Linked DNA regions of Homo sapiens. The protein of the gene in region 1 interacts with the protein of each later gene in a pairwise test. Each region holds a gene or a part of one and is shown in the gene's direction. Other genes may lie near its edges.

The links. The genes of interacting proteins can lie anywhere in the genome.
Region 2: the proteins of BRAP (region 1) and CPLANE1 interact in a two-hybrid assay, tested with the Homo sapiens proteins (one study listed by IntAct).

The regions. Positions count from the first base shown.
Region 1 is NC_000012.12:111,641,634-111,647,973, reverse strand, and holds the end of BRAP (BRCA1-associated protein), read left to right. Parts: intron 1-3,411; coding exon 3,412-3,775; 3' UTR 3,776-5,828; downstream 5,829-6,340. UniProt on the Homo sapiens protein: Negatively regulates MAP kinase activation by limiting the formation of Raf/MEK complexes probably by inactivation of the KSR1 scaffold protein.
Region 2 is NC_000005.10:37,106,356-37,113,384, reverse strand, and holds part of CPLANE1 (ciliogenesis and planar polarity effector 1), read left to right. Parts: intron 1-4,913; coding exon 4,914-5,092; intron 5,093-5,606; coding exon 5,607-5,783; 3' UTR 5,784-7,029. UniProt on the Homo sapiens protein: Involved in ciliogenesis. Involved in the establishment of cell polarity required for directional cell migration. Proposed to act in association with the CPLANE (ciliogenesis and planar polarity effectors) complex.

The DNA.
Region 1 (6,340 bases):
ACCTCAGCCTCCCAAGTAACTGGACTACAGCTGTGCACCACCACCCCTGGCTAATTTTTTTTTCTTTTTTTCTTTTTTTTTTTGAGACGGAGTTTCGCTCTTGTTGCCCAGGCTGCAATGGTGTGATCTCGGCTCACTGCAACATCTGCCTCCGGGGTTCAAGCAATTCTCCTGCCTCAGCCTCCCAAGTAGCTGGAATTACAGGCATGCACCACCATGCGTGGCTAATTTTGTATTTTTAGTAGAAACAGGGTTTCTCCATGTTGGTCAGTCTGGTCTCAAACTCCCGACCTCAGGTGATCCGCCTGCTAAAGTGCTGGTTTTACAGGCGTGAGCCACCGTGCTTGGCCTCTGGCTAATTTTTTGCAGAGACTGTTTTACCATTACAGGCATGGGCCACCACACCCTGCAAAAACTGGAAGTTCTTTTTCACCCTCTAGATCCTGCTATCTAGTGTTAACCATTATTAACCAGTACCAGTGAATATTTCTTCTTCTAGATGTTTAGCTCTGCCCACATAAATATCTCACATGCATAATCTTTTCTCTGCAAAAATAGAATCTAGGTATTCTTTTTGATAAAATATGTTTTTGGATTTTTTTTCATACTAGCACATCTAAATCTATCCTGATCTTTGTAACATCTGCATGCTGTTTAATTGTATGGATGTACTATAATGATTTCTGTTGTGGTGGTTGTTGTTGAAATAAGGTCTTGCTGTGTTGCCTAGGCCAGAGTACAGTGGCGTAATCATAGTTCACTGCAACCTCCAGCTACTGGGCTCAAGTGGTCCTCCTAGTCTGAGCTTCCTGAGTAGCTAGGACTACAGGTGTGTGCTACCATGTCTGCCCAATTGAAAATTTTTTTGTAGAGACGGGGTCTTGCCATATTGCCCAGGCTGGTTTTGAACTCTTAGCCTCAAGTGATCCTCCTCCTTGATCCTGTCTTGGCCTCCAAAAATGCTAGGATTATAGGCATGAGCCCTGCACCTGGCCTGCATAATGATTTTGACCAGGTTCCTATTGATTGTGTCAAGTTGTGTCAAATCTCACACTACTATAAGCAATACTGTAATGAGCATCTTCCTCCATGTCTCTTTTTACCTAATCCTGAGTATATCTATTCTATGGTATAAATTCCTAGAAGTAAAATAGCTGTGTCAAAGGGCATGCAAATTTTTTGTTTTTATTTATTTATTTTTGAGACGGAATCTTGCTCTGTCACACAGGCTGGAGTGCAGTGGCACGATCTCGACTCACTGCAGCCTCCGCCTCTAGGGTTCAAGCAGTTCTCCTGCCTCACCCTCCCGAGTAGCTGGGATTACAGGCACACGCTACCACACCCGGCTAATTTTTGTATTTTTAGTAGAAACGGAGCTTCACCATGTTGGCCAGGCTGATGTTGAACTCCTGATCTCGTGATCCACCCTCCTCGGCCTCCCAAAGTGCTGGGATAACAGGCGTGAGCCACCGTGCCTGGCCCAAATTTTTTGTTTTTATAGATATTGCCAAGTTGTCTTCGAAAGAGTTTATACCAGTTCATGCTCCAGTGCTAGTGTGTAAGTGCCTCTTTTCTCATGTCTCAGCTCTTGGGTGTTCTGATGCATAAAAATAGTATCTCAAATAGTGGGGTTTTTTTGTTCGTGGTTTTTGTGTGTGAGTGTTTTTGGTTTTTGTTGTTGTTTTTTTGAGACAGGGTCTTACTCTGTCAGACAGGCTGGAGTGCAGTGATGCAATCACAGCCCACTGCAGGCTCAAATTCCTGGGCTCAAGCAGTCCTCTGCCTCAGCCTCCCAAGTAGCTGGGTCTACAAGTGCACATCACCACACCCAGCTAGTTTTTTAATTTTTCTTTTGTATAGACGGTGTCTCGCTATGTTGACCGGGCTGATTTCAAAGTGACCCTCTCACTTTTGCCTCCCATAGTGCTGGGATTACAGACATGAGCCACTCTGCTGGGTCTCAGATGGTATGGGTTGTTTGTTTGAGACAAGATCTCGTTCTGTCACTCAGGCTGGAGTGCAGTAGCATGAACACAGCTCACTGCAGCCTTGACCTGCTGGGATCAAGCAATCCTCCAGCTTCAGCCTCCTGTAAATCTGGGACCACAGGTGCACGCCACTGCACCTGGCTAAGTTTTTTGATTTTGTGTAGAGACAGGGTCTTACTTTGTTGCCCAGGCTGGTCTCGAACTCATTTCCTGTTTCATTTACTGAAGCGATCCTCTCGCCTCAGCCTCCCAGAGTGCTGGGATTCCAAGCATGAGCCAATGCACCTGGCCTCAAATGGTGGTTTCATTTGCAATTCTTTACTTATGAGTAAGACTGGACATCAAGAATAGGGCACTCCCAAGTCTAAAGCCCTTTGGTTAGAATAAGTGCCCTTTTTTTCCCCTTCAGCAAATGCAATGAAGTCAGAGTACTTGACTCTCCAAGAATGCCACTTTTCCTCATAACTTCCTTATCACAGCTATCATCTCGAAGGCACCTATTTAACCACTGACTGCAAAACAAAGAAGCAGTAGAATTTTTACCGTCAGTCACAGAATAGTTTCTGCTACTGAAAACTTTCTGATGCTTAAAAAAAAGTGTCTTAAAAGTACATTTGTGGGCTGGACGCGGTGGCTCACACCTGTAATCCCAGCACTTTGGGAGGCCAAGGTGGGTGGATCACAAGGTCAGGAGTTCCAGACCAGCCTGGCCAAGATGGTGAAACCCCGTCGCTACTAAAAATGCAAAAATTAGCTGGGCACAGTGGCAGGCACCTGTAATCCCAGCTACTTAGGAGGCTGAGGCAGGAGAATCGCTTGAACCCAAGCGGCAGAGGTTGCAGTGAGCCAAGATCACGCCACTGCATTCCAGCCTGGGCAACAGAGTGAGACTCCATCTCAAAAAATAAATAAATAAATAATACACTTGTGGACTGGCGCAGTGCCTCATGCCTGTAATCCCAGTACTTTGGAAGGCCGAGACAGGTGGATCACCTGAGGTTGGGAGTTCAAGACCAGCCTGGCCAACATGCCGAACCCCAATATCTACTCAAAATACAAAAATTAGCCAGGCATAGTGGCAGGTGCCTGTAATCCCAGCTACTTGGGAGGCTGAGGCAGGAGAATCGCTTGAACCCAGGAGGTGGAGGTTGCAGTGAGCTGAGATCGTGCCATTGCATTCCAGCCTGGGCAACAAGAGCGAAACTCCGTCTCAAAAAAAAATACACTTGTGTTAAGTAGAGCAAAATTCTTGCTTTGCATAGCTGATTGCGATGGCAGAAAACCATTCTCCCTCACGATGGGAGAAAGGGGTCTGTCCTAAAGGGATTCTGAGGTCATGGTTTCTCTGTTCAATCCCAGAGCAGAAAGGGGACTGTGTCAGCAAATGAAAAATGTGCTTTTGTCTTCCTTTGTTTTTCAAAAGGTGCACTCAGCTAAACACAAAAGTGGCCAAACTCACCAACGAGCTCAAAGAGGAGCAGGAAATGAACAAGTGTTTGCGAGCCAACCAAGTCCTCCTGCAGAACAAGCTAAAAGAGGAGGAGAGGGTGCTGAAGGAGACCTGTGACCAAAAAGATCTGCAGATCACCGAGATCCAGGAGCAGCTGCGTGACGTCATGTTCTACCTGGAGACACAGCAGAAGATCAACCATCTGCCTGCCGAGACCCGGCAGGAAATCCAGGAGGGACAGATCAACATCGCCATGGCCTCGGCCTCGAGCCCTGCCTCTTCGGGGGGCAGTGGGAAGTTGCCCTCCAGGAAGGGCCGCAGCAAGAGGGGCAAGTGACCTTCAGAGCAACAGACATCCCTGAGACTGTTCTCCCTGACACTGTGAGAGTGTGCTGGGACCTTCAGCTAAATGTGAGGGTGGGCCCTAATAAGTACAAGTGAGGATCAAGCCACAGTTGTTTGGCTCTTTCATTTGCTAGTGTGTGATGTAGTGAATGTAAAGGGTGCTGACTGGAGAGCTGATAGAAAGGCGCTGCGTTCGAAAAGGTCTTAAGAGTTCACTAACCTCACATTCTAATGACCATTTTGCCTTCCTGCTTGGTAGAAGCCCCAACTCTGCTGTGCATTTTTCCATTGTATTTATGGAGTTGGCGTATTTGACATTCAGTTCTGGGGTAGGTTTAAGATGTTAAGTTATTTCTTGTAACCTCAAAGGTAAGGTTATCTAGCACTAAAGCACCAAACCTCTCTGAGGGCATAACAGCTGCTTTAAAGAGAGGTTTCCATTGGCTATTAAGGAGTTATGAAAACTCCCTAGCAATAGTGTCATATCATTATCATCTCCCCCTTCCTCTGGGGAGTGGAAGAATTGCTTGAATGTTATCTGAAAAGAGGCCTGGTAGTAAACCAGGCCCTGGCTCTTTACCAGCAGTCATCTCTTCTTGCTCTGGGGCCAGCCAGGAAAAACAAACAACCCGGGGCACATTGGGTAGACTCAGTGTAGGAAAAATGGTGGCAGCTCCACTGTTTATTTTTGGTGACTTCGTACATCATTATGAACCGCAATTAAGGAGGAGGCTTAATGGCTGTTCCCAAACTCAAATCTCAGAGTGGGTATCCTAGCATCTAGCAAGACTGAGTGGGGAGATTTCTCATCCGTGTGAAAATGTAGAGTGAGGCCTCTGACTAGCTAATTGTGTATTTTGTTGGGTTTAGTATTTTCTAAATGTTTACAAAATATTGGGCTGCATGTTCAGGTTGCAGCTAGAGGGAGCTTGGGCAGATTTTCAATTACGCTTTCAAGATATAACCAAAAGCTGTTTCTAAATCCTAAAATTAGAATTTCAACAGAGCCCCCTTTAGAACAGTCATATAACGCTTGTGTGGGCCAACAGAGGGGCTGTGTACTCTCTCTGGAACCATAAATGTCAAATAATTTATAACCTGCAGTAATTGAGCAAACTTAAAATAAGACCTGTGTTGGAATTTAGTTTCTTGAAGAGGTAGAGGGATAGGTTAGTAAGATGTATTGTTAAACAACAGGTTTTAGTTTTTGCTTTATAATTAGCCACAGGTTTTCAAATGATCACATTTCAGAATAGGTTTTTAGCCTGTAATTAGGCCTCATCCCCTTTGACCTAAATGTCTTACATGTTACTTGTTAGCACATCAACTGTATCACTAATCACCATCTGTTTTTGTGGGATGTGCTGCAGCATTTCCCAAAAAACTTTACGTGTAATGTTGCAAAATGAATGTACTCAGACATTCTTAATTTTTACTTAGGGCAGACCAACTCTTTGAGTCTCTCTTGGACTTATATATACAGATATCTTAAGAGTGGGAATGTAAAGCATAACCTAATTCTCTTTCCTATAGAGATTCTATTTTATTTAAAATCTATTTTTACACTAGTTAGAATCCTGCTGTTTTGGCCAAGTACTTGTCTTGCATGTCTGACCTTGCAGAAGCTGGGGTGGATCATAGCATACTAATGAAGAGAATTAGAAGTAGTTTACAAAGCTCGCTCACTCCTCATTTCTCTGTGATCCCTTCTATCCAGTGGCCCCACCACCACCTGGGAAAACAGATTTTTCAGTACAGGTGGGATAAATGCTCTGAAAGGCTGTGCCCAGAGGAATGAGCAAATAGGCAAGTGTTTCCAAACTACTTGGAGGTTTACAAAAAATATGTCCCAGAAAAAAAAAAAATCTTACCAAGATACGTAAAGAAAAAAAAATTTTTTTTTAAACAGTCAAAGAGTCATGTTTGAATTTCACAAAATCACATCAGACAGAAGTTGTTTTCTTCAGGAGGGAAATGAACCACTTAATATACCCATACTACCTTGAACAATGAAATTGAATTAAAATAGCCAAACTTTGAAATTATTCTGCCCCGTGTGAAATGTGTGTCTCTGACTGACATTTGCTTGGGAGCATGTCTCTAATAATCTAAGAAAGTGTCGGCTGGGCACAGTGGCTCAGCGCCTGTAATCCCAGCACTTTGGGAGGCTGAGACGGGCGGATCATGAGGTCAGGAGATCGAGACCATCCTGGCTAACATGGTGAAACTCCGTCCCCACTAAAAATACAAAAAAAAAAATTAGCTGGGCATGGTGGCAGGCACCTGTAGTTCCAGCTACTTGGGAGGCTGAGGCAGGAGAATGGCATGAACCCGGGAGGCAGAGCTTGCAGTGAGCCGAGATTGCACCACTGCACTTCAGCCTGGGTGACAGAGCGAGACTCCATCTCAAAAAAAAAAAAAAAAAAAAAAAGTGGCCTTGATTTAAAAAGCAACGTAAAAATCAGCCCCTTGGTTGGGTGCGGTGGCTCACATCTGTAATCCCACCACTTTGGGAGGCTGAGGTGGGAGGAATGCTTGAGGTCAGGAGTTCAAGACC
Region 2 (7,029 bases), on another chromosome or scaffold:
AAAAGGCAAAGGAGAAGCAAAGGCAAGTCTTACATGGTGGCAGGCAAAAGAGTGTATTCAGGGGAACTCCCCTTTATAAAACTATCAGATCTCATGAGAACTCACTATCACAAGACCAGCAGCATGAAGGTAACTGCCCCCATGATTCAATTACCTCCCACCTGGTCCCTCCCACAGCACGTGGGAATTATGGGAGCTACAATTCAAGATGAGATTTGGTTGGGGACACAGCCAAACCGTACCAGCTTCTAAATCCCATGCCAGCTTTTCTCTCTTTCAAAGACTTTCCTTTTTACCCATTATGAATTGTTTTCTAGTCTAGAGTACTCAATAGCTTTTTATTCTTTTCAAAGCAAATATCTAGCAATGTCTAGTTCAACAGATAAAATGCTCCCCAAATACAATGTTACCTCTAAAAACAGTTGAAATTACATGTACCGTTATATTGTTTTGTTTTTGAAAGTCCCGGAGATCCAGGGTTTTGTGTTCTTGAAGTCATTATAATCTAACATGAGGCCTTGCCCATAGAAAGCTGTAGGTATTTGTTTCATTGTTCAATGGTAACCCTGCCTCTGAAAGTTAGAAATGTGTATGACTCCAAGTTTCTAGCTTAAGTGCTTAGCTAGACTGTGACTCACAAATTGACACAAGTAGAGCAGGAAAAGAAGCAGGATTTTCTTTGGGAATGATGGAGGTAATAGGTTTAGTTTTATCATCCAGTTTCAGATTTCTCAGGCTAGACTCTGTAGACACTGTTTGGTGTTATGTTATAAAGAAACTGAGTGTCAGTGCCCACCGTCCTAGAGAAAGAGTACTTCCTTTCTGAGGGAAGCCAGTGTACTTGGCAGCCTGGTTTCTGCTGTGGGGTGTCTTCTTGATCTATAACTTACCTTTCACTTCAGAAAGCTTTCACTGTCCAGTGGGGCAGGTACACTTTACCTTGAAAAGTCTTATGCATGCTCAGTTTCACAGAACTTTTCTCATTATATTTTTATCTCAAATTGGATATCCCAGATAAACCCTGGAAAAATGCATTATGATCTGAAAGGAAGGAAATTACAAAGCCATCTCTAGGTAAAGTAAGGTGAGAGAAACCCAGTGATAGCCTCTCAAGGTTTGTAATACCCCATAGGTGAAGATTTATCCTAAAATGCAAGACTCTTAACTGTAATTTTAGCAGAGTAGGTGGTGGTTTGATTTGTCATTCTTTCTAGATGACAATAATTATGTTCATTTGGACAAAACAAGAATGTCGATGTCTAGATGCCAAATTAATTGTAGCCAAGATGAGTTTGGGATTAGTTGATGTTTGTAGCCTTTGTTGATCTCTAGTCATATCGTGAATACTTGAAGGAATAACTTCAGCACCCCACCTCCACTTGTTCCCATCTACTTTGAAGTGGAAGCCTACTCTTGTGGTTATGTTGCTTAACCACTCATTGGTTTCTCTTTCAGTCTCACTTTTTCTGTTTTAACGGCTGTTTTTTTTTTAACACAGTGTTTGTTCACATATGCATTCCTGTCATCTGCTCGTAGATTTTTTCCTTTATATGGTTTTTCAAAATTTGTTCCTTATTAATATTTACTGAAATAATTATTTTAACATGGAACTTTCAGTGGCATTTCAAAATACTCTGTGATGTCTTTAAGTAGCAGAAAAAATGTCAAACCTTTTCAACTAGAGCATAGCTCTCACATTGGATATTACAGTGGCAGGTGCTACCAAATGATGTTAGCTTTGTTTCTTTTTCAGACTCTTGGGGCTAGTCAAAAGAAAAATCCCTAAGCTGTCTGTACCACTGCACCCTTCCCTTTGGCACTAATCCAGGAAGAAGCTTTTGGAAAGCTGCCACTTTGGGGATCCAAATTAATAGATCTATTCATATTTTACTTATAGATATGAAGATGATCTTAAAGGGCCCTCTAAGTATTATTCTTCCTTCACCCTATAGAAAGTTAGGCCGGGCACGGTGGCTCACGCCTGTACAATCCCAGCACTTTGGGAGGCCGAGGCGGGCGGATCATGAGGTCAGGAGATCAAGACCATCCTGGCTAACACCGTGAAACCCCGTCTCTACTAAAAATACAAAAAAAAAATTAGCTAGGCATGGTGGTGGGCGCCTGTAGTCCCAGCTACTCGGGAGGCTGAGGCAGGAGAATGGTGTGAACCCGGGAGGTGGAGCTTGCAGTGAGCCGAGATCATGCCACTGCACTCCAGCCTGAGTGACAGAGCGAGACTCTGTCTCAAAACAAAAAAAGAATAGAAAGTTAATACATTGGCCGGGCGTGGTGGCTCACGCCTGTAATCCCAGCACTTTGGGAGGCTGAGGCAGGCGGATCACGAGGTCAGGAGATTGAGACCATCCTGGCTAACACGGTGAAACCCCATCTCTACTAAAAATACAAAAAATTAGCCGGGTGTGGTGGCGGGTGCCCGTAGTCCCAGCTACTCGGGAGGCTGAGGCAGAAGAATGGCGTGAACCCGGGAGGCAGAGGTTGTAGTGAGCCAAGATAGTGCCACTGCACTCCAGCCTGGGCGACAGAGTGAGACTCCATCTCAAAAAAAAAAAAAAAAAAAAAAGTTAATACATTAGCCCAGGTTCTGGGGTGGATCATCTCCATCATCTTGGGCCAATTACATAACCTCTCTAAGCCTCACTTTCCTCATTTGCAAAATGGGGATAATAATGGTTTCTCCATAGGACTGTCAGGAAGAGTATTCACTCAGCAACTGCCCATTGAGTTCCTACTACATACCAGGCACTGTTACTCATGAACAACACAGAAAGCAGCACATAAATAAGGGAGAATGAGGCTGGCTAGGTGGAACTACTCTAGCAAGGGTGGTTAAAGGTCTCTTTGAGAAGGTGAAACTCTTACTCCAGCTCTTAGTATGAAGCAAATTAAAAATTAAATGAATAAAAATTTAGAAAAAGAGAAGGTGATGTTGGAGTGAAGATCTTGAATGATGAAAAGGAGATTGTTAGGTAAAGATAAGGCAAAACAGTTTCAGGCAGAAGTTCAAAGTTCTGGTAAGATTGTTGTATAAAGATAAGGCAGAACAGAAAGTTCAGAGTCCTGGTACAGAAACAAAGTTGGTATGACAGAAAAGATCAGTGTGGAAAGGTGACGAGAGATATGGTGGGAGAGATGGGCTAGATACTGTAGGCTAAGGCAAGGAGTTTGGATTTTACTTGAGATCCAGTGAGACTCCATTTTAGGGAATTAAGCAGAGAGATAATATAATTTATGTTTTAGAACATGTGGAAAGAAAGAACAGAAGACGGCATACAAGGATAGATTGCTTGGGCTAGGGTTTTAACAATGGAGATGGGAGGAAACTATTTGATTTGGGATGTATTTTGAAGATAGACAAAATTAGGACTTGCTGATGGATTGGATGTGGCATGTATAAGAAAGAAGGATGAGGCTGGGCACAGTGGCTCACTCCTGTAATCCCAGCACTTTGTGAGGCTGAGGCAGGCCGATCGCTTGAGGCCAGGAGTTCCAAACCAGCCTGGCCAATATGGTGAAACCCCATCTCTACTAAAAATACCAAAATTAGCTGGGCATGGTGGCGCATGCCTGTAATCCCAGCTACTTGGGAGGCTGAGGCAGGAGACTCGCTTGAATCCGGGAGGCAGAGGTTGCAGCGAACCGAAATTGCACCACTGCATTCCAGCCTGGGGACAGAGTGAGATTCCGTCTCAAAAAACAAAAAAGATATACTGGATTTTAACCTGAGCATTTCCTGGGATAGGGCAGTTTAGGGGTAAAAATTAACAGTGTGGTTTTGGACATGTTAAAGTTCAGATGTTTATTGCACATCCAAGCAAGGATTTTAAGAAGGGGCAATTAGCTTTATGAGACTGGAGGTACAGGTTTTAGAGAGCTGTCAGCATGTAGGTGATATTTAAAGCCATGGAACTAAATGAAGTTAGCTAGGGAGAGCAGAGGTGTGTTAGAAAATCTAAAGACCAGGCATGAATGTCTGGTAAGTTCAAGGGACTGAATGTAAAAGTGCTTATTAGCCTATACTAAATGCCAAAGTGTGTGCTGTGATTATTTTGGGGGCTTTATTTCTTGGAGATATCTTCAGCTTCAAGTACATAAGGTTGGTAGAGTTACAAAAGACAAAGAGGGCCCAAACTTCAGCATTGTCATACCTCTTCTCCCCTCTTCAGGGAGCCACATGACTGCTTGTTTGGGATCTATATTTACTTCCCATCTTGTCCCATGTCTTGGGTGTTTCTTCATGAAATCACCTCGAAGGGTAGAACATGCTGTGATATTGGCTTTGGAACATTGTGTTAGGTGAGGTAGGCTCCTCTAGGGCTTTGTGCAGAGAAACCTTATTGGTTTGTGGGTTTACTAAGCTGCCTCTGGGCATTAGCTGGAATGAAAATTTCTTTTCAACAAATACTGATATATGCAGTAAGAAGAAAGAGGGTCATAATGTATTGTCACCACACTCACTGTGATGCCTTTGCCTAAAGGCAGATTGTAAGCATTAAGCCTGGGTGAAGATGCCCAAAACATTGCTTCTAAGAAGTTTTCACAAGACTTTCTGTAAAAGACAGGGAAGGCCCAGGTCTCAGAGTTCACCCAACTTTGGTGTCAATACCTCTCCACCGTTCTGTTATATCTGTGGCCTCTCCTCCCTAGATTTTCTTGTCTTAAAGATTAATTACTAATAGTTTTCAAATCCAAAGGCTGGAATTCAGTTTCCATCTCGTACAGTGACAGGACAGGAATTGTTCGAACTCTAAAGTGAACCATTTCCAGACCTTGTGATTCAAATATTATTTAAAATGTGACTACCTTGGCTTTGATGATAAAAGTCACAATTAACAAATGAATGAATGAATGAATGAATCAATCCCAATGTGTGCTTTGTTCTTATCCCTTAAAAGGCTCTAATGCTCCGTGTCATAGTCTGCAGCATACAAAAAAACATGGAAGTGCTGGGCTTGCACCTCAAACCAAGCAGGTGTGTGTAGAGTATGAAAGAGAGGAGACTGTGGTGAGTCCCTGGACGATACCTTCAGAAATCCATAAGATTCTTCATGAGAGTCACAATTCCCTTCTACAAGTAAGCATTGTTCTAGATTTTGTTTGTCTAGTGATTGCTCTATGTTCTTCAGGTTTTTTGTTTGTTTGTTTGTTTGTTTTTTAGTTTGTTTTTTGTGGGATGTGGAAATACTGAAAAGTTGTTAGGTCAGTTTGAAATCGTGATGCAAAGCATCTTCCCTTTTGGCTTAGTACTTCAGCATTTGTCTTTCAGACTTCTCTGTGACTGTATTTTTTAACTAAAAAATGACCAAAATGTAAGAACATAAAATCGTACTACAAGTATCAACATCCGTTCTGCCCTGTCTTCACATCTGGTGCCAGCATCTCGTTGTGTGAGATGATGTTCAGCTCTTGTCCATCTGGATGTGCTGGGCAATCACAGCCCTATTTCCTGGCACATTTCCTTCAGCCTTTTGATGGATGAGCAACTCTAGAATTTTTGGAAAGCTTAGTTCACGTTCCAGGTTTTTTTGTTTTTGTTTTTTTGTTTGTTTTTAGGGGCTAGGACCACAATTGTCTTTTCAATTTAATAGGACTTGTCTCCAACTGAAGAGGAAGAGCCAGAGCATCCTTTTGGGGTGGGCGGTGTGGACAGCGTGTCTGAGAGCACTGGCAGCATCCTCAGCAAGCTGGACTGGAATGCCATCGAAGACATGGTGGCCAGCGTGGAGGACCAGGGCCTGTCTGTCCACTGGGCCCTGGACCTGTAAGACCTGGATATCATTGGGTTTCCATGCACAGGCCAGCACCTCAGTAATGTGGTTCTGAAAGATTAACAGGTTTAAGGGACAGAAGCAATGAAAGAAGCAATGTGAATTTTCCATTTGCTTTCATATTATTACCTGGATTAGCCATTACCAGAGGAAAAATAAACATTTCTCAGTAACTTTGCCTTTATGGGGAAAGGGTTGACTATTGATGTATTATATGTTTTTGTATTTGATGCATCATTAGGCATAATTTTTAAAATGATAAGTACCTTTCAAGCCAAGTTTGCATAACCTACTTTCAATAAAAACCCTCTATCTTGCCTCCTCCTTTATTACCCTCTGAGTTTTGAGAAACAACCATATACAGATGAATCTAATAGGAAAAAAAAAAATCTTTTCATTGAGAAGAAAATCAGTCTCACCTGAGAACTCAATTATGAACCCTATTTTAAAACACCTATGCAGGGTTTAGCCTAGGAGTGAAAAGAAAAACCAACTACCTTTTACCAACCCTGAATCTCTAAATAAGCAAAGTTTCATGGAGGCCAGGAGATCTTCTGTCTTCTGCCCTGTAGCCTGAAGCCTTGGAGGAAGAAACAGGAATGGATGCTTTGGGCAGGAAAGTAAGGGAATATGACTCCGGCCTCTAGAAGGCTCATCTTAAATTTGTAAGAACCATGGTACAGAGACCTGATTAGTTTTTGGTATTGTGCTCCAATAATGTCATAGTTTTAAGAGATAATTTTTATGAGAATTGACTAAGAACCAGTATCCTTCAACTACTTCATCAATGTTTGGTATAATATAAAAGCACACTATCATCTGAAAAAGCTATTAAATACCCCTCTTTTTCCAAATATCTACCTGTGTGAAGCCAGGTTTTACAACATGTATTGCAGCAAGTTGAATGCAGAAGCAGGTATGGTAATTCAGCTGCCTTCTATCAAGCTAAACATTAAAGAGATTTGTAGAACTATAAAACAATGCTACTCTCCTTACCAAATTGTTTTAGAAAATAGCTTTATAGGCTAACATTATTGTTAATTGTCATTTAATTGTTTTGTCATTTAAAATATTTTAAATTGTTTTCTGTTAGTTTCTTTTTTGTATATTCTATGGGTATTTTATTGATACATGATAGTTGTACATTTTTATGGGGTGCATGTGATATTTTGATATGTGCATACAATGTGTAGCAATCAAATCAGGGTAATTGGGATATTCATCACCTCAAACATTTATCATT